Homo sapiens: one gene and its partners. The protein of the gene in region 3 purifies or fractionates together with the protein of the main gene of each other region. This does not show direct contact. Each region holds a gene or a part of one and is shown on either strand. Other genes may lie near its edges. The genes, in order: KLHL18, C17orf75, SPANXN5, BPGM, PRUNE1 and EHD4.

The links.
Region 1: the proteins of SPANXN5 (region 3) and KLHL18 purify together in Homo sapiens (affinity purification with mass spectrometry; one large-scale study listed by BioGRID and IntAct). This does not show direct contact.
Region 2: the proteins of SPANXN5 (region 3) and C17orf75 purify together in Homo sapiens (affinity purification with mass spectrometry; one large-scale study listed by BioGRID and IntAct). This does not show direct contact.
Region 4: the proteins of SPANXN5 (region 3) and BPGM purify together in Homo sapiens (affinity purification with mass spectrometry; one large-scale study listed by BioGRID and IntAct). This does not show direct contact.
Region 5: the proteins of SPANXN5 (region 3) and PRUNE1 purify together in Homo sapiens (affinity purification with mass spectrometry; one large-scale study listed by BioGRID and IntAct). This does not show direct contact.
Region 6: the proteins of SPANXN5 (region 3) and EHD4 purify together in Homo sapiens (affinity purification with mass spectrometry; one large-scale study listed by BioGRID and IntAct). This does not show direct contact.

Annotation. Positions count from the first base shown.
Region 1 is NC_000003.12:47,337,701-47,342,284, forward strand, and holds part of KLHL18 (kelch-like protein 18), read left to right. Parts: intron 1-2,856; coding exon of another isoform or gene 2,857-2,871; coding exon 2,872-2,976; intron 2,977-4,584. UniProt on the Homo sapiens protein: Substrate-specific adapter of a BCR (BTB-CUL3-RBX1) E3 ubiquitin-protein ligase complex required for mitotic progression and cytokinesis.
Region 2 is NC_000017.11:32,327,372-32,332,688, forward strand, and holds the end of C17orf75 (protein Njmu-R1), read right to left. Parts: intron 4,608-5,317; coding exon 4,392-4,607; 3' UTR 1,070-4,391; downstream 1-1,069. UniProt on the Homo sapiens protein: As component of the WDR11 complex acts together with TBC1D23 to facilitate the golgin-mediated capture of vesicles generated using AP-1. May have a role in spermatogenesis.
Region 3 is NC_000023.11:52,795,237-52,799,336, forward strand, and holds SPANXN5 (sperm protein associated with the nucleus on the X chromosome N5), read right to left. Parts: upstream 2,192-4,100; 5' UTR 2,113-2,191; coding exon 2,038-2,112; intron 1,396-2,037; coding exon 1,252-1,395; 3' UTR 908-1,251; downstream 1-907.
Region 4 is NC_000007.14:134,652,688-134,657,271, reverse strand, and holds part of BPGM (bisphosphoglycerate mutase), read right to left. Parts: intron 1-4,584. UniProt on the Homo sapiens protein: Plays a major role in regulating hemoglobin oxygen affinity by controlling the levels of its allosteric effector 2,3-bisphosphoglycerate (2,3-BPG). Also exhibits mutase (EC 5.4.2.11) activity.
Region 5 is NC_000001.11:151,021,318-151,025,901, reverse strand, and holds part of PRUNE1 (exopolyphosphatase PRUNE1), read right to left. Parts: intron 1,292-4,584; coding exon 1,107-1,291; intron 388-1,106; coding exon 229-387; intron 1-228. UniProt on the Homo sapiens protein: Phosphodiesterase (PDE) that has higher activity toward cAMP than cGMP, as substrate. Plays a role in cell proliferation, migration and differentiation, and acts as a negative regulator of NME1. Plays a role in the regulation of neurogenesis.
Region 6 is NC_000015.10:41,969,106-41,974,391, forward strand, and holds the start of EHD4 (EH domain-containing protein 4), read right to left. Parts: upstream 3,453-5,286; 5' UTR 3,390-3,452; coding exon 3,154-3,389; intron 1-3,153. UniProt on the Homo sapiens protein: ATP- and membrane-binding protein that probably controls membrane reorganization/tubulation upon ATP hydrolysis. Plays a role in early endosomal transport.

The DNA of each region.
Region 1 (4,584 bases), on a different chromosome or scaffold from region 3:
TCACAAAGCATCGGAGTAGGTTCCTTTGGGAAGAAAAAAATACGTAAGATCTGCCCCTCCCAAGAACGCATTGAGAGTCCTTTCCTCCCACCATCCCCACTTTTGCTCCTTGGATACTTTGCAGCTTCCTATGTTTGAGTGACTCATTGCTCCGTGTCCCCAACCATGAGTAGCTTTTTTGCTTTGACTGCAGTCAGCTGTCCTTCCTTGTGTGTCTGCTCTGGACCACTTCCTTGCTTTGATGTTACTGGGTTTAGAGGGCTGTCTTGGAGGAAAGTTCTCTGGGTATTCCTTTCCTTCACTGTGGTTAATATCCTGTTATTAGTGTGGGCCCGGTTCCATTACATCCCTTTTAAATTACAGGCTACCTTAAAACGTTCCTAGTCACTTCTCTTCTGACATCCCACACAGCTGTCTGTTCTGCCAGTTAGTGACATCCTGCCATCTTTCCTTCCTATCTCCCCCAGTGTTCTACGCCATCCCATAGACCTTTCTTACACTGGACTATTCCAGTCCATGCTGATCAGCATTTTCTCCTTCTCTTCACACTCGCCTTTACCACCTAGTTGATAGTTAATCTCATGCAGTTTTGGGGCACCTCTTAATTCATTTTCATATTGTTCAACACCTGTTTTGTTATGTAATTTTTATGTTTGTTTTGTGTCCGTATCCAGAAGGATAGTGATCATGTCTAGTAAATTTGTGATCTTCCCACAATACTTGCCTAAGGCAAGTCCCTCTCCTCTTTCTGGCTGGTTCAGGGGGTCAGTTATCATGTCCCTGAAAGGGACATTCTGTGGATCAGTTTGATTACTATGTACATTTAAAAGGTAGCAGCAAGCCAGGTATGGTGGCTCACGCCTATAATCCCAGCACTTTGCGAGGCCAAGGAGGGCGGATCACCTAAGGTCACGAGTTTGAGACCAGCCTGGCCAACATGGTGAAACCCTGTCTTTACTAAAAATACAAAAATTAGCCAGGCATGGTGGCGGGCGCCTGTTATCCCAGCTACTTGGGAGGCTAAGGCAGGGAGAATTGCTTAAACCGGGGAGGCGGGGGTTGCAATGAGCTAAGATCGTGCCACTGCATTCCAGCCTGGTTGACAGAGTGAGACTCCGTCTCAAAAAAAAGAAAAGGTAGCATTAAGCCTGGTATGTTTTATTTTCCTGTTTGTTAGAAACCTAGATTCATTTTTAATCTTCACCAGCATCACATTTGAAAATAGTGAATTGGGCAGCTTGGCATTTGTGCTGAATTCCTTATAAGGCGTTGTGTAGGAGGGAAGATTACATGATTACACCACCAGACCCCTGGGTCTTTGATATTAGGAGAGCTTGGCATGTAAGGAGTTGGGGAGTTGGGCTTGTCTCATTTAAATCTGAGGCAGGCCTCTCTCTGGGCAGTCTTGAGGAGAGACCTCAGCCTCCCCAAGCTATGGCTGCCTGTCTGTACAGTGATTATGGTGCTCTTTCCTTCCTTGCAGGGTGTGCTAAGGGCTGAAAATAGCAAGTGGGCCATGCACAGTGGCTCACACCTGTAATGCCAGCACTTTGGGAGGCTAAGGCGGGAGGATTGCTGGAGCCCAGGAGTTTAAGACCAGCCTGGGCAACATAGTGAGACCCCCGTCTATACAAAAAAAAAATTAGCCAGGCATAGTGCCATGTGCCTGTAGTCCCAGCTACTGGGGAGTCTGAGGTGGGAGAATCCCTTGAACCCAGGAGGTCAAGACTGCTGTGAACCATCATTGTGCTACTGCACTCCAGCCTGATGATAGAGCAAGACCTCATCTCAAAAAAAAAAAAAAAAAGAAAATAACAAATGTAGAGTACCTAACACATGTAGTAAATGCACAGCAAACAGGAGCTGTGGCATCAGCCACTATGATAAATTAGAGGCCATGCACATGATGAAAACAACATCTGTGAATTGAGTGGGAAAAAGCAGAGGTAACACAACAAACATACATTCAGTGCCTGTTACATACAGGACATCATACTTATCACTGTGAGGGTCACACAGGTGAAGGCCCTTTCCTGTCTTCCAGGAGCTCCTCACTTATTAAGAGGTGGCAGATAGATTGGCTGGGTGTGGTGGCTCACTCTTAACAATCCCAGCACTTTGGGAGGCTGAGACAAGAGGACAGAAGTTTGAGACCAGCCTGGGCAACATAGCAAGACCCTGTCTCAAAAAAAAAAAAATTAGCTGGGTGTGGTGGTGCACACCTGTAATCCCAGCTACTTGGGAGGCTGAAGTGCAGGAAGATCAATTGAGCACAGGAGTTCAAGGCACAGTGAGCTATGATGGTACCACTGCACTCTAGCCTGAGTGACAGAGCAAGGCTCTGATTAAAAATTACACACAGAAGTGGCAGATAGATTCCTGGTAGCCTATAATGTCAGAACATAAGTGCTTTGTGGGCTGGAACTTTGGCTTGCTTACCACTCTAAACCCCAGCTGTTACAGATCTGATGGATGAATGAATGATTGTAACAACTGCTGATTAATAAGCCACTCAGGGAGCGTGGGGGTGGGAAAGAGTAATTCTTACAAAGGGGAGGAAGAGGAGAGTGGAAGTTGAGTTGGGCCTTCAAGGTAAATTCGACCTTCACATGGTGAGGTGGAAGGTAAGCATTTTAGAAAGATTAAGGACAGAGAAGAGCAGGGAGGGGAGGCAGCCTGCGGTAGAAGGGTGGGGCACAAGAGGAATGATGGGGCAGCTTCTGTCACCTCAGTTTTATGCCTTTACTTAGTCACATACCTTAGATTTACGTTGCAGAAAGAGGCAATTGATAGGTTTGTTTCTCAGTGGGCAAGAGAGGCTGCTCCAGGAAGGCTGCGGCTCATCTGGGATGACAGCTCTGTCTGTTTCAGTGCCATGGGGACAGTCGTGCTGGATGGGCAGATCTACGTCTGTGGGGGCTACGATGGCAACTCTTCCCTCAGCTCCGTGGAGACCTACTCACCTGAGACGGACAAGTAAGGACTCCAGCTCCCTTGGGGCAACTGGAGCTTATAAACAGAGAGTATAAAAATCAGAACTGTAGTTTTTTTAATTTAAGCTTCTCAAGGGTAGAGAATGTCTTACCTTTTTGCCCGTATAGTACTTTGTATATACTAGATATTTAATAACCCTTGGTTAAGTGAAAGAATGAGTAAATAAAATTTTAAAACAAATAGTCTACATAGTTGCTTGGAAATACTTATTTAATGGTCTGTACCTCTTAGCTAAATCAGCCCATTTTAATGGAAATACAGGCAAGAGGGAATAAGAAGTAGATGAACAGCATGTTCCAAAGTGGGTAGGATATGATTTGGAAAAAAAAAAATGTTTTTAAGTTCTGTGGTCAGATAGGCTTGGGAAATGTTGATGTCTGAACTGCCAGAGTCCTTGTCTTTCCATAAGATATATTAACATTTTAAAGACTCTAAGAAACCCTGCAGTAAATAACTCTGTTTAACCTCGGGTTTTATATACACAACAGTCACCATCTTGTGGGACTCATTTGTGGAACACTCTTTGAAAAACATTGACAAGGTTAGCCCGAGTTTTTCATTTCAGTATTTGAATCCTCTCATCTTATATAATAAAATATAAACAAATTAGTTGAATGGACTTATTAGGATGCCTTTAAGCCAGTATTCTGTTCACTTGACCAATCTACTGTGGATCAGACAGCAAGCTGGGTGTCTGAGATCCTTTAAAGCATCCAATGTGGTTGGGCCATGGGTTGCATCATGATCATCCTACCCTGGAGGCCTGTGTCAGAAGCTCTTGGGCACAGAGCAGAGAGAACCTTCATCTTCCCCAGGGTTGCAGGAAGGGACAGGGTAGCAGGGATGTCTTCCAAGGTGAGACCTGTCATGGATAGCCAATGGGAGGTGTTTGCTCATCATAGGGAGACAACAAGGAGTGAGGCTGCAATAAGAAAGTGTTCACTGTAATCGAGAACAGCAATGATCCTCTCATGGGCTAGAGCACAGCGTGTGGATGGGAGACGGAGCAGGGTGGGTGGCATGTGGTGTGGGGTGAAGCTGAAGGGTGGTTGAGGACCAAGAGGTGAAGAACCACATGAAGGGCTGGGCACAGTGGCTCACGCCTGTAATCCTAACACTTTGGGAGGCCAAGGCAGGAAGGTAACTTGAGCCTAGGAGTTTGAGACCAGCCTAGGCAACATAAGAGAGACCCTGTCTCTTTTAAAAAAAAAAAAAAAAAAAAAGGAGAGAGAGAAAAAAACATTAGCCAGGCATGGTGGCATAAGCCTCTAGTCCCAGCTACTGAGAAGGCTGAGGCAGGAAGATTGCTTGATTCTGGGAGGTCAGAACTGCATTGAGCTATGATAGCACCACTGCATTCCAGCCTGGGTGACAGAGTGAGACCCTGTCTCAAAAATAAAAAAAAATTAAAAACCACATGAAGGAACCTGGATTCTCTTAGAGGAGACAGTGAGGAGCCACTGGACGGACATGGTGCAGGTACAGGAGGAGCAATCCCTCTGGCTGGGTGGGGTCGGATGGGACTGGTAGGAAAGCCAGGCTGCCTGTAAAGAGGCTGTTGCAGTGGTCCAGATGAGAGGTCAGGGGTAG
Region 2 (5,317 bases), on a different chromosome or scaffold from region 3:
GCTTCCATATATATGTATTTTTTCTCTTGTTGCCCAGGCTGGAGTGCAATGATGTGATCTCGGCTCACCGCAACCTCCACCTCCCAGGTTCGAGCAATTATCCTGCCTCAGCCTCCCGAGTAGCTGGGATTACAGGCACGTGCCACCATGCCTGGCTAATTTTGTATTTTTAGTAGAGATGGGGTTTCTCCATGTTGGCCAGGCTGGTCTCGAACTCCCGACCTCAGGTGATCTGCTCGCCTCAGCCTCCCAAAGTGCTGGGATTACAGGCATGAGCCACCGTGCCTGGCCTATTTCTTTATATTTGAGAGAGGGTCTTGCTCTGTTGCCCAGGTTGGAGTGTAGTGGTAGTCATAGCTCAGTTACTTTGAGCTCCTGGGCTCAAGCGATCTTCCAGCCTCAGCCTCCTGAGTAGCTGGGACTATAGGCACATACCACCAGGTCCTGCTAATTTTATTTTTTGTAGAGATGGCATTTCACTGTGTTGCCAGGCTGGTCTTGAACTCTTAGGCTCATGCAGTCCTCCTGCCTTGGCCTCTCAAAGTGCTGGGATTACAGGCCTGAGCCACCACATCCAGCCACATTTAGGAACTTTAGCAATTAAGAGAACTGGACTGCCCTCTCAGACCTCCAAGTGGAAAGACTTCATTGAAGTCAGCAGGGTTTCCATTAAGTGAGAAGACACACTGTTAGGAAAGTGTGGTCCTAGTAACTGCATCTTATTTCCAAGAAGCCCGCAGGCTTTCCTGGCACCTGGTCTAAGGGATCCTCTGGTAGAGGACAGGCATTCTGTCATGGTGAATAATGAATGAGAGTGAAAGGAAGTAACTTGGGTTATTGAGTTCTATGAGTATAACTCTACTGGACAATGAATAAAACATTGTGAGGGAAATTGCTCTTAGATTCTGCTTGATGCCTCCTGCAAGAAGCAGAAAGGTGTGTATCCCAGCAAGTGATTTGATCTTCTTCAACAAATTCCTTAGTATAGCAAGTATAATTTCCTCACAACCTTGTTGGGAATACAAATGTTAGGCTTGAGGACTGAGCTCATTAAACAAAAACAACTGTCTTGATGAGAAGCTAAGTTTTATTATTATAATTACAAATTAATTACAGAGAAACTGAAGCCATTCTTCATACATGACAAACATACATTTCCTCTGTGTGTACAGCACACAAGTAATATACACAAATATATTCCATGTCTGAACAAATCCTTTTTAAAACTTTAAAAGCTGGCTGGGCACAGTGGCTCACGCCTGTAATCCCGGCACTTTGGGAGGCCAAGGCGGGTGGATCACAAGGTGAGAAGATCGAGACCATCCTGGCTAACACGGTGAAACCCCGTCTCTACTAAAAATACAAAAAATTAGCCATGCATGGTGGCACATGCCTGTAGTCCCAGCTACTGGGGAGGCTGAGGAAGGAGAATCACTTGAACCTGGGAGGCAGAGGTTGCAGTGAGCCAAGATTGCACCACCACACTCCAGCCTGGGTGACAGAGCGAGATTCTGTCTTAAAAAATAAAACAAAAACAAAAAAAAAAACAACTTTAAAAGCCAAGATAGTAGCTTATTAAAATTTGAATACAGTACATGTTTCTAGTCATGAACTCTGTGGTTTCTTCTCATGACCAAGATATTCAGTTCCATGACACCATTTTCCTTGTCTACAGTAGTGATACAGAGTTTGTCAGACTTTTTTTTTTTTTTTGAGACGGAGTCTCGCTCTGTCGCCCAGGCTTGAGTGCAGTGGTGTGATCTCGACTCACTGCAAGCTCCGCCTCCCGGGTTCACGCCATTCTCCTGCCTCAGCCTCCCGAGTAGCTGGAACTACAGACGCCTGCCACCACGCCCGGCTAATTTTTTGTACTTTTAGTAGAGACGGGGTTTCACCGTGTTAGCCAGGATGGTCTCGATCTCCTGACCTCATGATCTGCCCGCCTAGGCCTCCCAAAGTGCTGGGATTACAGGCATGAGCCACCACACCCAGCCCAGACTTACTTTTTTTAAAATAAGACTACCAGAGGCCGGGTGCAGTGGCTCAGTTTGGGAGGCCAAGGTGGGAGGATTGCTTGAGTCCAAGAGTTTAAGACCAGTCTGAGCAACATAGTGAGACCCCATTTCATTAAAAAAAAAAAAAGATAAAATAAGACTATCATATAGAGCTGTGTAATGTAGTGAGCCTACATTACAAAAATATATACAACCACACAGAGAATATGTAATTACACCTTGCCTATATCCATAAATGATTTGAAGCAGGTAACACATTTGCTTTTAAATGCCATTTACAACATAGACTCTTGAATGACATGAATTTGAAAATGAAGTATTTTTTCAGACTTAAAACGTTGATGTGCTAATGTAGCTTACTTTAAAAAATGATTTCCAAGTGGGGAACCAACTACATTGGGAAAAGACAGTCAGATTCAAGGACAGTGTCATAAAATTGCTGGTTTTCCTTAGTCACCCTGACTTTATTTTTTTGAGACAGAGTCTCGCTCTGTCACTCAGGTTGGAATGCAGTGGCGCGATCTCGGCTCACCGCAATCTCTGCCTCCCGGGTTCAAGCGATTCTCCTGCCTCAGCCTCCCAAGTAGCTGGGACTACAGGCACATGCCACAGTTCCCAGCTAATTTTTGTAATTTTAGTAGAGACAGGGTTTCACCATATTGGTCAGGCTGGTCTGGAACTCCTGACCTCAGGTGATCCACCTGCCTCGGCCTCTCAAAGTGCTGGGATTACAGGCATGAGCCATCGTGCCCAGCCACTCTCACTTTAATACTATGAAAAATGCTACTTAGATTTTTTTCTATACTGCCTACATTCCAAGTTATTAAAGTTTAAAACCGTATGAAAGCATTTATGAAGATTCTGAATTGTATTTCTCATTAAAAGAAAAGAAATGTGAGTCATGTCCCGAGGCTTATGTAGAGGAGAAAGCAGAAGGCCATTGTCAGTCATTTTGAAAGTTAAAACTCAGCACTTAATGTGAATTTAGATCCATTTAAGAGAGGATTCCTCAGTTTTATGGGTTTGTGCTCCTCTGAGCATCCTCAGGGAAGTGAGAACACAAGACTTCTGTTCTTCTAAGCAAAAATCATTATCAAATGAATTTATTAAAGAGCTATCCCGAGCAAATTGCAATTGTATGTATGTAGCTACATAGGCTTCCATGGGAATTGTAAATGGCTAGCTGAGGGCACTTTCAATTGATTCAGAGTAAAACAATCTGAGGCTTGTAACAAATGTACAAAAAACTAAAATCAATGAGTAACTCTAATAGGAAGAAACTGTTTGCATTCCTTATGTTACAGTTTGCTTGTAAACTGTATGTACTTTGTTTCTTTTCTCAACACTGTTTTAAAACTCCAGCATTTTCACCTAAAAGAAAACACAGGCTCTTCATAAATACCTGTGAACAAATAAATGAAATGGTGACTGAAGGCGATTTCTGCAGTAGCTTTCTCTCAGAGATAATTATTTTTTTTTTTGAGACAGAGTCTCGCTCTGTCGCCCAGGCTGGAGTGCAGTGGCGCGATCTCGGCTCACTGCAAGCTCCACCTCCTGGGTTCACGCCACTCTCCTGCCTCAGCCTCCAGAGTAGCTGGGACTACAGGCGCCCGCCACCATGCCCGGCTAATTTTTTGTATTTTAGTAGAGACGGGCTTTCACTGTGTTAGCCAGGATGGTCTCGATCTCCTGACCTCATGATCTGCCCGCCTCAGCCTCCCAAAGTGCTGGGATTACAGGCTTGAGCCACTGCGCCCAGCTCAAAGATAATATTTTATCTTGAAGCTAGTGCATCGATTTGTAAAGCTCATTTAATTTTCTACATACTCAGGATTTGCATATTGACTTAAAATCTGACTTTATCATCCATGCCGTTATCAACTAGACAAAAAAATGTATCAAGCACCCACAGGATGCACAGATCTATCTCTGAACTGGTGTAGTGGTATTAATCTGTTCTAAGACTAGAATTACATTTTTTTTTTTAAGAAGCTACAGTCCACTGAAAAGGAAGTATTATGGTTTTTCTGAGAAGAAAAGTTGCTAAATACTGCAGCAAACTCAGGCTTTTCCTGAGAAAAGCCACAAACAAAATCATCTCTGAAATTTTTTAAGCAACAACTTCCTGAAGCGTGGAATTTATGGGGCCAGTGAGACACTAAAATTTCACAACTCTCACATACATTATCTATCTAGGACTCAGTGAAGATGTTCTTCAGATTTTTATTTAAGTTAAATTGGTAAAATACAAAAAGAAAATCTGGATTGAGTTTCAAATCATCTTAAATAGCAATCCTATGAACAATTATAACTGCAATTTCAAACACTAAGACTTAAATATACAACTTGATCATACAATTATCTCAAAACATATGATCAAAAACTTTGGTCAAGAGCTTCTTTCATGAATTCTTCAAGGACAGCTATCACATTTTTGGCTTCAGGCATTTCTTCATGTTCCACTTTAACAATCTTCAAAAGTATATCTCCACTACCACAGTTCTTTAGGAACATGTAACATTTAAACAAAGCATAATGATTCATTTCTGCCTGTCGGATAAATCTCTTCAAATTGTTTGTGTCTTGTATGGCCTAGAAAATGATTACCCAGTTAAAAATGTGTTAAGTGAAATAATAATGAAGCTCAAAAAATAACTCCTATCCAGCTGAGAACTCAACATATCTTCCTGAATTGTTTGCTTTTCATATTAAATATTTCCAAAATTTAAATTGCAGTATGCTTTGCCCTTGGTAGAAGAAGAAAATCTCCTTTTTTTTCTTGTTTCGCTCTTGTTGCCCAGGCTGAAGCGCAATGGCTTGATCTCGGTTCACCACAAACTCTGCCTCCTGGGTTCAAGTGATTCTCCTGCCTCAGCCTCCCAAGTACCTGGGACTACAGGTGTGTGCCACCACACCAGGCTAATTTTGTATTTTCAGTAGAGACGGGGTTTCACCATGTTGGTCAGGCTGGTCTCGAACTTCTGACCTCAAGTGATCCACCCGCCTCAGCCTCCCAAAGTGTTGGAATTACAGGCGTGAGCCACCACGCGCAGCCAAAAATCTCTTATACAAAATAAAAATACTTTAAAATAATCTACCTAGCATGGTGGCTCATGTCTGTAATCCCAACACTTTGGGAGCCCCAGGCAAAAGGATTGCCTAAGGGCCGGTAGTTTGAGACTAGCCTGGGCAACACAGCAAGACCCCGTCTCTACAAAAAATAAAAATAATTAGCTGAGTGTGGTGGTGCACACCTGTAGTTCCAGCTACTCAGGAGGCTGAGACAGGAAGACTGCTTGAAC
Region 3 (4,100 bases):
TGGTAGCTCACACCTGTAATCCCAACACTTTGGGAGGCTGAGGCTGGAGGATCACTTGAGGCCTGGAGTTCAAGTTCAAGACATTCCTGGGTTATAGGGTGGCCAGAGGCTTACATATCAAAGGAAGAATTTATAAATACAAATTTTCTCAAGGAAATGCTCTAAGGAAAGTGAAATGGGGAAGGTCTCTTCTTGCTCTTTTGGCAACAGGAAAATCTCAATTTTATGTTTAGTTACCCTTACAATTTCCCCCTTTTGTTATTCTTTTATAGTAACAGTACAATTTTCTAGTTATCTCCACTGCTTTGAAATGAGGCTCATTGGCACTGGAGAAGCTGGTTCATTCACACAGTCAGCTTCACATTCCCTCTTTTGATCAAGATCTTTCTTTGAAAACCTCACAAACCTGAGGTGATCCACCCACCTCAGCCTCCCAAACTGCTGGGATTACAGGCGCAAGCCACTGTGCCCGGCCCTATAACCAATGTTTTTAATTGTATCCCTCTAGAGAGAGTGAGCAGAGGTGTCTGTGTATGTCTGTATTGTGCTTTGTGTTTTACAGAACATTAACTCTTTATAAAGCATATATTTCTAACCTAGGAAAATATCAAATGGAAAAGGGATGGGAATACCTTTGATATGTACATTCAGCAGAACTATGTGCTGCCGGGTACAGTTGCATGAACATATACACATCTCCACTTCCTGTGGGAGGAAATTTTAAGAAGAAAATTTTCTTTAGGAATCAGTGCTCCCCCAGGCCTTATTTACAATGTCTGGCTTACTGTCAACCTGTGAGTCTGTCCACCAACCCTACAGGACCTCATATCCCTCCCTTCTCAAATGCCTACCTCTTCCCTTCCCTTCTCCCCCACCATCAGAAAACAGGCATAGATATATGCAGCCATCAGCTTCTCAAACTTGATTTTATTGTAATCATCACCGTTGGTGGTGAGGATTTGTCCAATTTGGTTTCTCCATGTTTAATTAGTCTTCCTCACCCTCCTCTGACGATCCTTCAGATGAGTCTGGGTCTTCTTCCTCCATCAAAGATCCTTCAGATGAGTCTAGGTCTTCATCCTCTTGTGAAGATCCTTCAGATAACCCTAGGTCTTCATCCTCCTGTGAAGATCCTTCAGGTAATTGTAGGTCTTCATCCTGCTTTGAAGATTCTGCAGATGAGTCTAGGTCTTCGTCCTCCTGTGAGGATCCTTCGTCCTCCTCCTCTTGGACTGGATTGATGGAGTTCTCTCAGGACTGGTCATTCTCGAGTTGATTTGAATGTATTTTCTTAGTCTTCCTGTAGCACAACACTAATACTGTTGAATATTCTGATGTTTTCATCTTTTTCAAACTCGGTTCGAGGACTAAGTCCCTGTTTGGTGTCTCCTGCATCTGTTAAGAAAACAGGGAGAGGCCAGAAAGACATTATTTTGGGTGAATAGGATAGAGACTGGATAGCAAGGGGGGCTTTATGAGAAGGAATGCAGGTTGAGGAAGGGGTTCGATCCAGAGAAGAACAAGGTTGACTCACAGGGTAGGGATCTATGGGGAAGAAGAGGAGCATGGGTAGGGTCATCTGTTAGTCCAAACTGCACCATTTTGTAAGTTCTTTGCTATTTTGCAGACCTTGGTCAAAGTGAAACATCCCATGGGGGTTCAGGCCGTGAGAAACATCCTGCCTAACCACCTGTCCACAAGGCAGACAAAGGCCCAACTAAAGAAACATCCCTATCATATCTTGCTTGGCAAAGTTCTAAGGAACACCACAACGATATTCCACCAGAAAAAGGGCCAAACCACCTGATCATAAGAACATCTTATCAATATCCTGCTGGGCAGCAAGCCATGCTGCCCAGATCCCTCCCACCCATACCTGTAAGTACCCCAGGCTGTAAGCGGTGGTGGGATCTGGCATTAAGCTGGTCCCCCACTTCCACAAGCGTCTGCAGTATTCCTGTGTTGCTGTTTGAGCTGCCCCCTCTCTGTGTGTCTTTCTTTCACCCTCGCCTTCACTTCAAAACCTAACAATCTTACCTCATCATTTTTGCTGTTGGAGTCACAGGGGCTCTTCCTCTTCTCCCCATTGGTGCTTGAAGTGGGCTTTTCCATGATTCTGGTTGGTTGTTGAATGTCTACAGCAGGATCTTGTAGAGTCCAGACTTCCACAGCTATATTGAAGCTTCCCAGTGGCCCAGAGCTCTTGCCCTCCCTATATATACCCTCCTGGTGACAAGGCAAAGCCACACCCTTGAGCTTTGTTTGATCATACAGGCAGTGTCCCAGCCAATGGCAGTCCAAGGGTGGCTTAGACATCACAAAGCACCACTGCTGACCACTCCCTGGGCTTGTGGGGGAGGGGTGACAGGGGTGTAGAGGAAACCAAATGCTGCTGTTGTTTCAGCATCCCCTGAAGACGCATCCCAAACTGATCTGCTGCCGCTCCTCATTTCTCCATGTTTAATGTTCATGGTTCACATGGAAGTGAGAGGTTGATTCTGTCAAGCCCTTCCCCACAGCCATTCCTATTAAGTGATTCATTCTTTTGTCTTCCAGCCCTCACCATGACTTAGTATTTTAGATGTCTCACCTCAAATCCCCCAAGCTAGTGTGGCTACATTTAATTATTGGTGGAGATGTGAATTATCCCATTTCCCTCTTACAGTTCCTTCATATGCACCTTGAAGACCATTTACTCTTGGGCTACTGCCAGGCAAATTTCAACCCATGTTCTTTTACCCAATGTCCATGTAGTTCTTTTAAGTTTCCTATTTCCAATCTGAAACAATGGCCTCAGTCTGTCAAAACTTTAGTGAATTAACATTCTTTACCTTGCATCCTAGTCTTGTTTCAAATCAGGGGTGTATGTTCATAGTAAATGTAGTATCCCAACATGAATTCTACCAGTATGTGGGGTGGGGGAAGGAGTAAATATTCAAGTGCTGGAAGTTGTCCTGAGTATTTACCTGCAGGATACTGCAATCTAAGACTAATATGTGCAAGAATGTGGGCATAGCTAAGCTTTGCACTGGAGATTGTGTCCAGTGACAAAAAAAAATGCATTCAGATTGGAAGGGAGAAGTAAAAGTATCTTTTGTCAAAGACTACATGAGAGTGTATGTAGAAAATCAATCTAAAAAAAATGCTTCTACAATAATTGAGGTTAGCAAGATTGCAGAGTAAGCGATCAACATATAAATCAATTGTATGTTTATCTAGTAGAAGTTATATATTAGAAATTTGCATCCAGTTTTCACCTATAGTCATCATGTCAATATGAATAATGACACATTTTTCACCGGAAAGTATTCCCATTTGTATAATTAATTAAATGGTAATATAAGTTTTAAGGTATCACTATCATTATTGGCATTAAGACGTGAAAGAGTTATACATCATAAGCAGTGAGGCAAAGAAAAAGACATGGAGAGGGAAACAAAATCGGAGAGTAACACATCTGGAAAGCTAAATATTTGCTTCTAAAAGTGACTGTTTTTGGCTGGGCGCAGTGGCTCACGCCTGTAATCCCAGCACTTTGGGAGGCCGAGGCAGGCAGATCACCAGGTCAAGAGATCAAGACCATCCTGGCTAACACGATGAAACCCCGTCTCTACTAAAAATACAAAAAATTAGCCAGGCGTGGTGGCTGGTGCCTATAGTCCCAGTTGCTCGGGAGGCTGAGGCAGGAGAATGGCATGAACCCGGGAGGCGGGGCTTGCAGTGAGCCAAGATTGTGCCACTGCACTGCAGCCTGGGCAACAGAGAGAGACTCCATCTCAAAAAAAAAAAAAAGGTGACTGTGTTTTGAGGTACAACTGGCAAATTTCACGTCCTTCCACAGTCTTTGTGATGTTCAGATATTCAGGTATTTCAGGGATATATTAAATAGTGTAGGCATTCTGAGCATATCAACCATATCATCCACACTCTGAAAACATTAGTGTTCAAGAATGTATTCCCTTTCAATTATGCCCTACATTCAATATCTGTGTCTTGTTCATATTCTGTGTTGTGCCTTTTCCATTTTCTTCAAGATTGTTTAATCTACTGGATGCTCTTCCTAGCTATTTCTCAAAAGAACATTCTATTAAATTTATTAA
Region 4 (4,584 bases), on a different chromosome or scaffold from region 3:
TCTTCTCTCCATTGCCACTTCAGTCTCACCCTGCTTTAGGTTAAGCTCTAGTCATCCTTTAGATCAGTTGTGTCCAATCAAGATATAATGCGAGGCACAATGAAGTTTTAAATTTTCTACAAGCCACATGAATCCTATAGGTCCAAAAGCTATCATTCAGACATGGAGTCAAAGGAGATCATTTTGGAACTTTAAGGTGTAACAACTGCTCTATTGGATTTTGGACTTGCATGGGGCCTGCTGTAGCCCCTTTGTTTTGGCCAATTTCTCCCATTTGGAACAGGTATATTTACCCAATGCCTGTAGCCCCACTGTATCTAGGAAGTAACTAACTTGCTTTCAATTTTCTAGGCTCATAGGCAGAGAGGGCTTGCCTCGTCTCAGATGAGACTTTGGATTTGGACTTTTGGGTTGATGCTGAAATGAGCTAAGACTTTGGGCGACTGTTGGAAAGGGCATGATTATGTTTTGAAATGAGAGGACATGAGATTTGGGAGGGGCCAAGACCAAATTTCATCTTGAATTGTAGTTCCCATAATCCCCATGTGTCATGGGAGGGACCCAGTGGGAGGTAATTGATTCATGGGGACAGTTACCCTCATGCTGTTCTTATGATAGAAAGTGAGTTCTCACGAGGTCTGATGGTTTTATAAGGAGCTTTGCCCCCACTTCACTTATACTTCTCCTTGCTGCCACCATGTGAAGAAGGACATGTTTGCTTCCCTTCCACCATGATTGTAAGTTTCCTGAGGCCTCTCCAGCCATGCTGAACTGTGAATCATTTAAACCTCTTTCCTTTATAAAATTACCCAGTCTCTGATATGTCTTTATTAGCAGCATGAGAACTAATACAATTCTAACACATGATCCATACAAAAATTATTAATAAGGCAATTTACATTCTTTTTTTTCACAGTATGTCTTTGGAATCTGGTGTGTACTTTATAATGAAAGCATATCTCAATGTGAACCAGCCACATTTCAAGTGCTCCATAGCCACATGTGACCAGTGGCTACCGCACTAGATCATGCAGCTTTAGAGCTCAGCTTAAATGTTAGTTCCTGTAGGCCAGTGGTTCTCAAACTTTAATGTATATCAAAATCAAATTAAACAGATTGCTTGGGCCCACTTCCAGAGCTTGATTTAGTAGGTCTGGGGTGGGACTGTGAATATGCATTTCTAGCAAGTCCTCAGGTGATGGTGACATGGCTGGTCCAAGGACCATGTTTTGAGAACCCCTGGCTTTAGACTTCCTCTTCACCCATTGGGAAGTAGGTCAGGCCTGCTGACCTACTCCTGTAGCATCCCGCTTAACCACATTTGGTGCACTTGCGATGGATCCCTTGAGATATATTACCTGTTCAATGGCTATGTGCCCTGTAAGACTGTAAGCTGCATCAAGGCAGGTCTTACTGCTGTATCTCTAGAACCTAGCACATCGCTTGGCACATATGAGGCACTCAGTAGGTGTACTGACTGAACCAAAGTCAGACAGAAATGACTGGATTGTACACATGAGACTAAGGCTTGAGAGTTTTAGTGGTAACTGCCACAGTAAAATCAGTTGGCAGGGCTAAGATGTTAGGAAACTTTAACTTAAGAATCTCAGGGTATTTATGTCAAAACAGGAGCCAAGAATAATTATCCATTATAGTTCTGTACTTTGTACTTTTGTACTATAAGTTTAGTATGTTCATGGATGGCCATAATCTCCACAGAAAAAAATGGAGATTCTGATTGACTTGTTCAAAAACATATGGCCAGTAAATGGCAAACTGGAACTGCAACCCTGGTCTTCTGCCTTCAACCCCCCACTGGAGATATTAGAGTCATGGTTTGAGGATCTTGGCTCACTTGGCTTCACTTCACAGGGGTATCTCCAGTTCCAACTTGTCCTTCCAAACCCAGGCAGCCATTTCATCAAACGCAAACGAACAAGGTGAACATGAAGGAGGGCTCACCTTATTAGTACTCTTGAGAAAAACCTCAAGGCACAAAGTAAGCCAGGCAATAGTCACCCCAACTTATAAAGAGGAACCTTACTAAGAATAAATACTCCCCATCCCAAATTAAAAACTATTCCTTTTCAACCTCAAGCTTTATTTTTTTTGTTTTGTTTTGTTTTTCATAAAAGCTCACCAACCTGTACCTGGTTTCTCATTTATCCCATAGCAAAAGTTACTGGCACTTAAGTACCGATTTTAATCAATAATTTACATCATGTCAAAAAAAGAACACATAGGTTATTGATTTATCCCCCAGGGTGTCTTCCTTTTTAAAGTGTGATCTGGCTTGAAGAAAAAGTTTACTAAGGAAACATCTTTTACACAGCTGTGTATCTTATCCTCCCTCCCCTTCCTCTTGTCCATTTACCTTCCCTTCTAGCCATTCCTTTTTTAGTTTCCTGACACCAAACTTGTGCCTTACCCACTCTACTGAAATGGTGCCTCAAAAGACTACAGGTTAGTTACTTCTTACTAAGTGGAGATCATCTTCTCTCATGACTTCTCTAAAACAGACTACTTCCATCAAGAAAAAAAACCCACTAAGATTTTGGTGTAGCATTTCCTCCAGCTCTTCCACGGTTACATCTTGGTCTTGGGTGTCTGCATTTTCTTACCTACCTGTAAGAGTACTATGAAGATGATCATATTAGTCACAGTAGCCAACATTCACAGAGTGCTCACCTGTGAATGTTAGTTCAATGTTACTTGGCACTGTTTGAATCCTCAACCACCATTCCATGGAGTGGCTACTATGATTACTCCCATTTCACAGATGAAGAAACAGGAGGAAAGGTTAACTTGCCTAAGGTAACAGAGGCTGTAAATGGCAGAGCTGGAATTTAGTCTCGAGAAGTCTGTATCTATGCCCTGAACCATTTTGCTACACTGTCACATTGAAACCTGAGGCTCAGTCTTCAGTTCTTGGAAACCCTTTTCTCACTGCTTTAATCACATTAAAATGGATGACTCATAAATTGAAAGCCCCAAATACTCAGTCGCCCTAGCCTGACCAATTAATTCATTCTTCAAACATTTTGCAGATCCCATTTAGGCATGGCCCAATGCTAGGCCTATGAGGAATATGTAATCCAACAAGAATTATGTCTTCATCTTCAGTACGTGTGTGTGTGTGTGTGTACCTAAAACTCAAAGTAATTCACACCATGAGAAAGCACTTCATTAGTAAAAGAGAGGTGGGATGGGAGAGAATATTTCTGAGTAAGGCTTCGTGGACACAGTATTTTTTAAGCTGGATTTGGAAAGGCAAGGTTTAGATTTACAGAAAAAAGTAAAGGAATTCCAATCTAGGGGAACAGTGAGTGAAGGCAAAGGAACAGGTACATATGGAAAATGGCGAGCCCATTCAAACTGGTTGGAGTATAGCTAGAGTAACCATACATCCTGATTTGCCTAATAGGCAAAAAATATTCTTTCCATAAATGCCACCATAAAATTGAAGTTATGGTTCAAGATTAGCATTCTTTTGGCAAGGTCAAGACAGAGAGGGTAGTTAGGAGAAAGAGGCACATGCATCATTATTACAGAACAGTATTGTCTTAGGCCTGTTTCCCCAACATAATTACTACTAGGGCCCCTTTCACACTTAAGTGTCCCATTTGGAAAATTATATGGCCACTGTAAGTATAGGGTATAATAAGGAAGCAGGAGAAGACTAGCCTAGAAAGATAAGAAAAAATAGTGACACAAAAAAAGCCTGTGCCAAAGCATGTAGGTTTTTCTATACATATTGGGACATCATTAAAAGTTTAGTAGCATGCATTTTAGCAGGATCAGGCAGCACTTACTTACAGAAATAGACAGGAAAACCCAGGAGTATGAACACTAGCTGAGAGGTTTTTGCAATAATTCTGGTAACACAGAATAAAGACTTGGACCAGGACAATGGCCGTTTAAGTGAGATGAAGGAGATAAACGTGAAAGACACTATAGCTTAGCTCAGATGTTAGCAACTTTTTCTGTAAACCACCAAATAGCAAATTTTTTAGGCTTTCTAGGCTATACTGGTCTCTGCCATAATTAGGTACAATTGTATAATTCTGCCATTGCAGCTGAAAGCCACCATACATAATATATAAGTGAATAAATCTGTTTCAATAAAACTTCAGGTATGGACACTGAAATTAGAATTTCATATAATTTTCATGCACATGAAATATTAATTTATTTCAACCGTTTTACATGTAAAACCCATGCATAGTTTGTGGGCTGTTCAAAAACAGGTAGTAGACATATGATCCAGCAAGCCCGCCACTGGGTATACATCCAAAAGAAAGCAAATAAGTATACTGAAGAGATACCTGCACTCCATGTTTGTTGCAGCACTATTCACAATAGCCAAGATATGGAAGCAATCTAAGTGCCCATCAACAGATGAACAGATAAAGAAAATTTGGCACATATATACAATGGAATATCATTCAACCATAAAAAGAACGAAACCCTGTCATTCACAACAACATGGATGGAACTGGAGAGCCTAAGGTTAGGTGAAATAAGTCAGGCATGGAAAGACAAATTTCACATGTTTTCACTCATATGTGGGAGCTAAAAATTTTG
Region 5 (4,584 bases), on a different chromosome or scaffold from region 3:
GGGCGTGGTGGTGGGCGCCTGTAATCCCAGCTACTCGGGAGGCTGAGGCAGGAGAATCGCTTGAACCCAGGAGGTCGAGGTTGCAGTGTGCCAAGATTGTGCCACTGCACTCTAGCCTGGGTGGCAGAGCAAGACTCTGTCTCAAAAAAAAAAAAATAATATAATGAACAAGGCTTGCCTTTCTGTTTTCTTATCTGGGAGGCAGAAAAGTCAGCTAACATTTCATACCTGATACATCAAACTTTGCCTTTTGTAGGGAATCAAATATATCATTTCTCTTGGGTAGGTCTGGGAAAAGGGCCTCTAGTTTCTCCACATATTTGCTGTCCTTTGGGGTTGCCTTTCCAATTTTAAGGTCCATGTTGACACAGTCCAGGATGATGGTTCCTGTGGAGAAGGGAGATGGTGGAACTTGAATCCTGTGACCCTTCACACACAACCACCAGAACATATATAACCTTCACACCAAATGGACACACACAAGGAGATTTGTATAGCAAAATCTCTGAAAGCAAAATGAGAAACTGGGATGGACAGTGTCCTCAGACCTCCCAAATCCAAACTAAAATGTAGGAAGGGAAATGGGGAAAAGGTAGAAAGAAAGCCTGAGCATCTCAAACCTTGGAGATTTTACAGCCTAGTCAGACAGAGATACACCTCTTCAGTAGGCCAAATCCCATCAAAGAATCTTCTAAGTTGGAAAAGACAGTCTAGTCCAACTCACTCTCTCTCTCTTTTTTTTTACAAGTGGAAAAATGAGAACAAGAAAGGTTAAGAGATTTGCTCAAGGTCACCTATTTCCTGGAGGAATTGGTATTGGAATCTGTTTCCTGCTTCTTTAGCTAATCCTCCTTCCATCATAAAATGATGCCAATAGGAAGCTTCTTGGTCTGTTGCCCTGCACTTCCTTTCTACTTTCTCCAACAAGTATCCCACAGGCCTTTAAACACATGCTCAATTGTCCCCTGAAAGAATCCTATCTTTTGGTATGAGCTGAATGGCTCTGAGAGCATATGGTTAGGCTGGAAGCGTCTAGACTTTTCCACCCTCCCTTCTCAGGGACAGGAATAGAACTACTGAGGTCCCAATCCAAAAGCCACCCTTACCATGCAGAAGGGCTGCAGTTTGCCTGTCCAAGATCTCTGGTGCCCCCTGCAGGATTCTCTCGGTCACCAGGGTAGCACAGGACCCCACCAGCTCAACTGAAACATGGCAGGGAGGGCAGTGTTTCGGCTCGATGGGTCGATGGTCTAGCACCTCTGCTACTGCCTCCTCTAGGGCTGTGTCACTTCTGTGGAGGGGAGGGTATGGGAAAAGAGGAAGAAAGATAGGTACGGACACTCCAGCTGCTTCTAGCCAACCTCTACCCCACACATCAAGGAAAATGCAGATGTCTTTTTTTTTTTGAGACGGAGTTTCACTCTTGTCGCCCAGGCTAGAGTGCAATGGTGCGTTCTTGGCTCACTGCAACCTTTGCATCTCGGGTTCAAGCGATTCTCCTGCCTCAGCCTCCTGAGTAGCTGGGATTAAAGGCGCCTGCCAACATGCCCAGCTAATTTTTTTGTATTTTTAGTAGAGATGGGGTTTCGCCATGTTGGCCAGTCTGGTCTCAAACTCCTGACCTCAGGTGATCTGCCAGGCAAGCATTTAAAACTGACCTTTGGTTACTTTTACCTCTGCCTAACTCCTCTCAATTCTTTTTTTTTTTTTTTTTTGAGACGGAGTCTCACTCTGTTGCCCAGGTTGGAGTGCAATGGCACGATCTCGGCTCCTGCAACCTCCACCTCCCGGGTTCAAGTGATTCTCCTGCCTCAGCCTCCTGGGTAACCAGGATTACAAGGCACGTGCCACCAAACCCGGCTAATTTTTTTTTTTGTATTTTTAGTAAAGATGGGGTTTCACCATGTTGGTCAGGCTGGTCTCGAACTCCTGACCTCGTGATCTGCCCGCCTTGGCCTCCCAAAGAGCTGGGATTACAGGCGTGAGCCACCGCGCCCAGCAATTCTTTTCTTTAATGTTATAATTGGAGTCATCTTTAAATAGTGTATAAGCAAATTCTGTGAAGCATCTGCTGCAAATATCTTACCCCCACATTTGCTGTCCTTTAGCGTTGCCTTTCCAACCCTATACCCTTGACACCCTTGATACCCAACATCTAAATTTCTCCTTTTTTTTTTTTTTTCTAAGACGGAATCTCGCTGTGTCGCCCAGGCTGGAGTGCAGTGGTGCAATCTTGGCTCACTGCAACCTCCGCCTCCCAGGTTCAAGCAATTCTCCTGCCTCAGCCTCCTAAGTAGCTGGGAGTACAGGCGCCCACCACCAGGCCCAGCTAATTTTTGTATTTTTAGTAGAGACGGGGTTTCACCATATTGGCCAGGCTGGTCTCGAACTCCTGACCTCGTGATCCGCCCGCCTCGGCCTCCCAAAGTGCTGGGATTACAGGCATGAGCCACCGCGCCCAGCAAATCTCTCCTATTTTTATAACCCACTCAATACTTAGATTCCATGTGGGTCACCAGGTCCTGTGAATTCTATCTTAATTCCTATCCATGCCCTAGTTTCTAACTCTCTGTTACTGCCCCACTCTAGGCCCTCAATATCTCTCGTCTGGACTATTCCAGTAGTCTCTTAACCAATCACCTGCTTCCAACCAAGAGCCCTCCTGGGCTGTCCTTCACAAAGTGGCCTGAATGATCATTTGAAAAAAGAAAATCTGATTCTTTTAGGACCCAGAATATAATTTAAAATAGTTCCCCACGGCCTAAAATAAAATCCAATCACCTTAGAAGGGCCTATGAGGCCTCCATAATCTGCCTCCTGCCTGCCCCCTCTGTCTCATCTTTTTCCATGTCCTACTTCTCCCTCAAATTTTATGCTCCAGCTGTGCAAAACAAATTCCATTTCCCCTAGCTCACCATGCTATTTCACGCCTGCCTGCATTTGATTCTATTAATTACTCCCTCTGCCTGGAATGCCTTTCCTAACCACCTTCCCTCCTCCCTCCCAATTCACCAAGCAAACACCTAGTCCTCTTTCAAGACTGAGATCAGTGCTCACTTCAGCAGCACATGCGCTAAAATTGGAATGACACAGAGAAGATTAGCATGGCCGCTGAGCAAGGATGACATGCACATTTGTGAACTGTTCCATAAAAAAAAAATATATATATTTAAAATAAAAAATAAAGGCTGGGCATGGTGGCTCACATCTGTAATCGCAGCACTTTGGGAGGCCAAGGCGGGCGGATCACGAGGTCAGATCGAGACCATCCTGGCTAACACGGTGAAACCCTGTCTCTACTAAAAATACAAAAATTAGCCAGGTGTGGTGGCGGGCACACCTGTAGTCCCAGCTACTCGGGAGGCTGAGGCAGGAGAATGGCGTGAACCCGGGAGGCGGAGCTTGCAGTGAGCCGAGATCGCGCCAGTGCACTCCAGCCTGGGCGACAGAGCGAGACTACGTCTCTTAAAAAAAAAAAAAAAAAATTAGCCAGGCCGGGCGTGGTGGCTCACGCCTGTAATCCCAGCACTTTGGGAGGCTGAGGCGGGCGGATCACTTGAGGCCAGGAGTTTGAGACCAGCCTTGCCAACATGGTGAAACCCCGTCTCTACTAAAAATACAAAAAATTAGCTGGGTGTGGTGGCGCATGCTTGTAATCCCAGCTACTTGGGAGGTTGAGGCAGGAGAATCACTTGAATCTGGGAGGCTCACTGCAGTGAGCCGAGATGGTGCCATTGCACTCCAGCCTGGGCAACAAGAACAAAACTCAGTTTCAAAAAAAAAAAAAAAAAAATTAGCCAGGAATGATGCTTTTACACAGGAGGCTGAGGCGGGAGGATTCCTTGAACCCAGGAGCTCAAGGTTATGATGATGCCGCTGTACTCTAGCCTAGGAGACAGAGCGAGAGAGACACCATCTCTTAAAAAAAAAAAAGGTGGTGGCACGGTGGCTCATACCTGTAATCCCAGCACTTTGGGAGTCCGAGGTGGGCGGATCACCTGAGGTCAGGAGTTGAAGACCAGCCTGACCAACATGGTGAAGCCCCATCTCTACTAAAAACACACACACACACACACACACAAAATTATCCCGGGAGGCGGAGGTTGCAGTGAGCCTAGATTGCACTATTGCACTCCAACCTAGGCAACAAGAGAAAACTCTGTCTCAAAAAAAAAAAAGAAAAAAAAAGGAAAGTTTATTACTGAATGAATCCATAGATGGATAATGCTCTCTCAGGCTGCCTTCTGTCAGTATCCTGCTATAACCACAATGTGCTCAAGAAAAAAATATTAGCAGGAGCCAAACAGACTTAGGAAAGTCACATAATCGTGTTGCTTTTTTGGTAGTTTTTTCCAGTAGTAAATTAGGGATGGAATTATTATAAATGTGTACATTTGTTAAACAGACATTATTGAGATATTTATAGATTAAAAAAAATTTTTTTTTGAGACGGAGTTTCGCTCTTGTTGCACAGGCTGGAGTGCGATGGCATGATCTCGGCTCACCGCAACCTCTGGCTCCCATGTTCAAGCAATTCTCCTGCCTCAGCCTCCTGAGTAGCTGGGATTACAGGCATGTGCCACC
Region 6 (5,286 bases), on a different chromosome or scaffold from region 3:
TTCTTTTCTTGCCTTATTTCCCTGCTCTCTACCCTTTTAAAGCCTATATAGTTTCTTGAGTGACTTCCCTCTTTTTTCCTCATTAGAATAAGTTTTCTGGGGAGAGGGAACAGAGCATATGAAGGGAGAAAGTGGAGCTCTTAAAAATGTGTAGTTTGGGATGGGGCGCGGTGGCTCACGCCTGTAATCCCAGCACTTTGGGAGGCCAAGGCGGGCAAATCACCTGAGGTCGGGAGTTTGAGACCAGCCTGACCAACATGGAAAAACCCCATCTCTACTAAAAATACAAAATTAGCCAGGCGTGGTGGCACATGCCTGTAATCCCAGCTACTCGGGAGGCTGAGACAGAAGAATTGCTTGAACCCGGGAGGGGGAGGTTGCGGTGAGCCGAGATCATGCCATGGCACTCCAGCCTGGGCAACAACAGCGAAACTGTCTCAAAAAAAAAAAATTGTGTAGTTTGCATTCATTTCAAATGGACTTCATACTTTTTCAGTGGAAATGTCTTCCTTCACAGCACCTGGGGCCAGGGATTTTCTGGAGGAATCTTTGAAATCTGTTTTCCTCAAGTTTTGGACACAAGCCTGGGTGAGCTCCATATCCATCCTTCCTCGGCTAGTACAGAGTCTAAGATGACATGGTCACTTTCCCCCATGCCCATCTCCCCTCCTTCTCTGGCCAATTCTTTATTGCCAGTCAAAGGCAGAAGAGCCAACAGCAATAAGAGAAGATTCCCACCATGTCAGCACAGGTTCTGTGTCATCAGTGACCTCTTGGAATGTGCAGGAAGCCAGGGAGATAAGAATCTATGGCTATGTAGATTAGGTACACCCCACAGCCAAGTATGAGCTTCTAGGGCCCAATCGCTAGAAGCAAACAACCCAGACCACTAACCAGGCTCTAACTAAGGCAGGATCCAGGATGCTCAGCACCCTGGGCCAACCCTTCCGCTCAAGATGAATCCATGGTTCATTTACAGTGTCTGGGGTGATATTTAATTCCAAGTTCACAAGTCTCCAGGGTAGCTGCCCTTTTGTTTGGGGATTTCCTCCCGGGTGCTAAATCACTTCCTCCTAGCTCCAATCTGAAAAGCAATTCAGGTCTCCTGTGGCCTCACCAAGCTTCCTGCCCACACTGATTTTCTTCTAACCTCACTGGTCTACCTTGTGTACATCACCTAACAACAAAGCCACTTAGCTCAAGGAAAGCCTCAAGAACAAATGGCTTCCTAATAAGGTGATTCCTCCCTCACCCTAGGGTGGCCCACAGCTCCAGCACCTGCTGAGAGGTGGCCAATTTGGATGAGGTAGCTGCCAGGAATCAAATCTCAGAACCCTTCATAAAACTGCGCTTAGCTATTCCACAAATTTCTCCAAATAATGAAACAGAGAGAAGAGTGAGAATATAATGAGAGAGAAATCTGGAAAAATACAAAAGATAAATTCATGTTCCTGTGAGTTGTATTCATCTTCCTGGGAGTTGATAATCAGGCTGGCTAGCTATCCAGTCTATGGGAGCAGAGAGAGGGCTGCATTATCTCCAGGTTGGCACAGCATCTAGCAGGGGCTCCCTGATGACACCTGGGCACAACAAGGACCTCACAGCAAAGACAAACAGGAGGAAATGCCTAGGGTGTGGGGACATGCCACCACTAAATTACAAAAATATATGCCTTTCTTCTTTGTATGTTTCAACAGTACCGCTTCCCACTCTTGTACCACTTGGCCATAACACTTTATTATCCCTAGTACCTAAAAACTAGACAGTATTACTGAGACCTTAAATGTGACATTTGTCATCTTTCAAGGTGCCAGTTACTGTAATACAGCTATGGTTCATTTTGAGTGTCTGGGTGACGGTGACATATTTAATTCTATTTTTGTCTTGTCCATAAGCACCAAATAAAGCAATTTTGAAATTACTTTCTTCACACTCAATTTATTATCTAGAACGACATTTCAATACACAGTATATTTGTTTTGTGGAATTCATTCGCAGTGTATCTGGAGGCCTGGATTTAACATATTTCCTGTAGTGATAGCTACTCTATTTGTAGGAACTATTTAGGTCACTGGAGTGGAGAAAAAGAGGTCGCTACTTAACAGAAATGGCATGTATCCAAATATAGATGCAGTTTTCTCAACACCTGTTGCACATCAAATGATGAAGAGATTGTTACAATTTCCAAAACCCTGGACCAAAACCTTAAATGATCAGCACTTTGTTTCAACTGATACACGGCTTAAGTCAGAAAAATAAGTTCTTCTTACCAAAAACAGTGAGCCTAAATATGCTGGCTGCTTTAGAAATAAAACAGGTGATCAACAAAGCAATCTGTTTCTGTCTAAATAATTTCCCAGCAAAAGTCACTTCTTTTGAAACTATATGATTTGAACCACAGGGTATGCACAGTGATTGTGTGCTTTCAGAAACACGGTAAGCATGACAAATATTTTCAGTTGTCAAGGGTAAGCGAGGAGGGAATGACCCACCTAAGAAATGGAAACTAACAAATAGTAATATGACACTCCCCCTTAGTTCCACAGGCTGGTGCGGCTGCTACACGCAGCTCACTTCCTACGGGCGGCTAAAGGCGGTGCATGAACTGAACGTAGGCGGCCTCTTTATCCCCTCCCCACAACACTGTGGGGTGGCACGTAAAGACCTCAAGGGAAGGGGGCCTGGGCGATACGCTCTCCTGCTGCCATTCATTTGTTCAAGAAATAGTTGAACAAATGAATAGTTAAACAAACTCTCCAACTAGGACTCTGTCCCATTCGGATACCCTACGCCTCTCCCCCCATTTCCATCCCTAGGCATCACTCCCTCGTCAAGAATATGCTGATTATGGCTCGCGCCCCCTCTCTCCCTTGGACCCTCCCGCCAGGGCGACCGGACGAGGCCAGCGGGAGCAACGCCTTCCGAACCGCAAGGAAGGAGGGCTCGGAGTGCGCAGGGCGCGGGTTCGCGGGACCCTCCAGCGCGCGGGGCTGGCCAGCCGGGGCGGGGCCGAGGGCACCGGGCGCCGAGCTCCGGGAGGGGTCCCCGAGGTCGCGCCGGCCGGGAGGGGCAGCGGCGGGAGGCGGCCGACTGCGGCGCACACGTGGGGAGGGCGGAGCGGGGCGGGAGCCGGGCGAGGGGCGGTGACGGTACCTGATGAAGGTGGTCTTGCCGGTGCTGTACTGGCCCACCAGCAGGATCATGGGCTTGTTCTCGAAGTCGGCGTCCTCCAGCGCAGGCGAGTGGAACTCGTGGAAGCGGTACGCCTCCTCCAGCGGCAGCACCTTGCGCAGGTAGAGCGAGCGCAGCCCGCCCGTCACCGTCTGCACCGCGTCCGCGCCGCCAGCGCGTTCGCGCCCGCCCGCCTGCCGCCCCATCCAGCTGAACATCCTGCCGCCAGTCCACGCTCGGATGGGACCCTGCTCCGGGTTCGACTCTCCCCGGCTCGCACTGAGCCGCCCCGGCCGCGCTGGCCGCCGCCCGAGGAGGGCCCCGCCTTGTGCTGCCACAGCCAGTCTTCGGCCGCTACGTCACGCGCGCTCGCCCACTATTCAGACGAGCTCTCTCAGGTCCTTCCTGATTGGATCTCTGCCAGAGAGGGCTGAAGGCGTCAGCCAATTGAGAGGAGGTTCTTAATGAATTATTGATGACGGAGTCATTCTAGAGGACTGGGCGGGGAGATGGTGTCTTCCCGGCCGGGTGGCACTGACCGGTCATGCTCAGGGCCCCCTTCTGGTTGCCGGTGCCTCACCTCTGGCCAGGTGGCATCGGCTTCCGGGTAAATCTGAGCTGCCCAAAGCGAGCCTCCGGAGGCTGCTCCATCTCCTGGAACGTTTACTCATTCAGGCCTCTGGACGTCGATACTGGGGATGAAAAGTTCAGAAAGTGGACAGGCAGGTTCTGTCTTCCCGGGGGCGGGTGGTTATGACTCCGTTTTACAGGCCAAGAGACCCAGGCTCACGGGCATAATTGACACAATCTTGAGGGGAAGTGGACTGGAATCTATTTGAGTAGCCGTTTCTCCTACTTCTCCACATTGCCCTCACTAAATTCTGGATCAGCTAAAGGCTTTTTCCCCTTAGTTTTCTTTATGTGTTTTTCTGTAAAGCCGAAAATTTAGTCATTACTCTCATTATTACATTATCCTCATTATTACAACTTTATTTCCACATATTGACATGTGAGTCATTGTCACCTCCTAGCTGTTTTTTGTTGTTGTTGTTGTTTTCTGAGACGGAGTCTCGCTCTGTCGCCCAGGCTGGAGTGCAGTGGCACGATCTCGGCTCACTGCAACCTCCGCTTCCCGGGTTCAAGCAATTTTCCTGTCTCAGCCTCCTGAGTAGCTGGGACTACAGGCGCTCACCACCATGCCCAGCTAATTTTTGTATTTTTAGTAGAGATGGGGTTTCACCATATTGGTAAGGCTGGTCTTGAACTCCTGACCTCAGATGATCCGCCTGCCTTGGCCTCCCAAAGTATTGGGATTATAGGCGTGAGCCACCGCCCCTGGCCTGTTTCTTTTCTAGGTTAAAAGGATACTCACTTATCTAAGTTGAGATTGGGGGAAATAATCACCTTTTGTGTCCTTGATTGTAGCTTAGGAATATTTCTTAGTTGTTTTAGAGCATTTCTCAAGTGTGATCCATGGGGCCACCTGCATATATGCATTTATGAGCTGGGATGCTTGTTAAAATGCAGATTCCTGGTCTTCAGTCCAGACCTACTGAGTTAAAATATTGAGGAGAGATGGAGCTCAACAGATGCCCTAGGTGACTCTGATGTGGCCTAAGTCTGGGGAAACAGTACACCCTGCAGTACTTCTCCAACCTAACAGAAATGCGGATTCTGATTCGGTAGGTATGGGATGGGGCCCATGACTCTACATTTCTAACAGGCTCTCGGGTATTGCCAATGCTACCCATCCCTGGACCATACTTGGAGTATGAGAGAACAGGACTTTGCATCAAAAGATCTGGGTTTGAACCTTGACTATGTAAATTAATGGCTGTGTGATTTTAAATGTGATGAGTTACCTCTCTGCCCTAGTTTCCTTAAGAGCAAAATGGAAACTCCTTTGGAGTTGTTGTGTGGGTCACATAGTTGGAGGGAATTGTATGTAACTAGGGAAGTGAAAAGAAAGCCAAGGGAAAATAAAGTTAGACATCTGCCTTGTGTCAAAATAAAACAAAGATTGAAATGTAAAAAGAAAATGAAACCACTGCACTACTAGAAGAAGGTACAAGAGATTTATACAATTTGGCGGTGGAAAAGCCTTTCTAACCAACA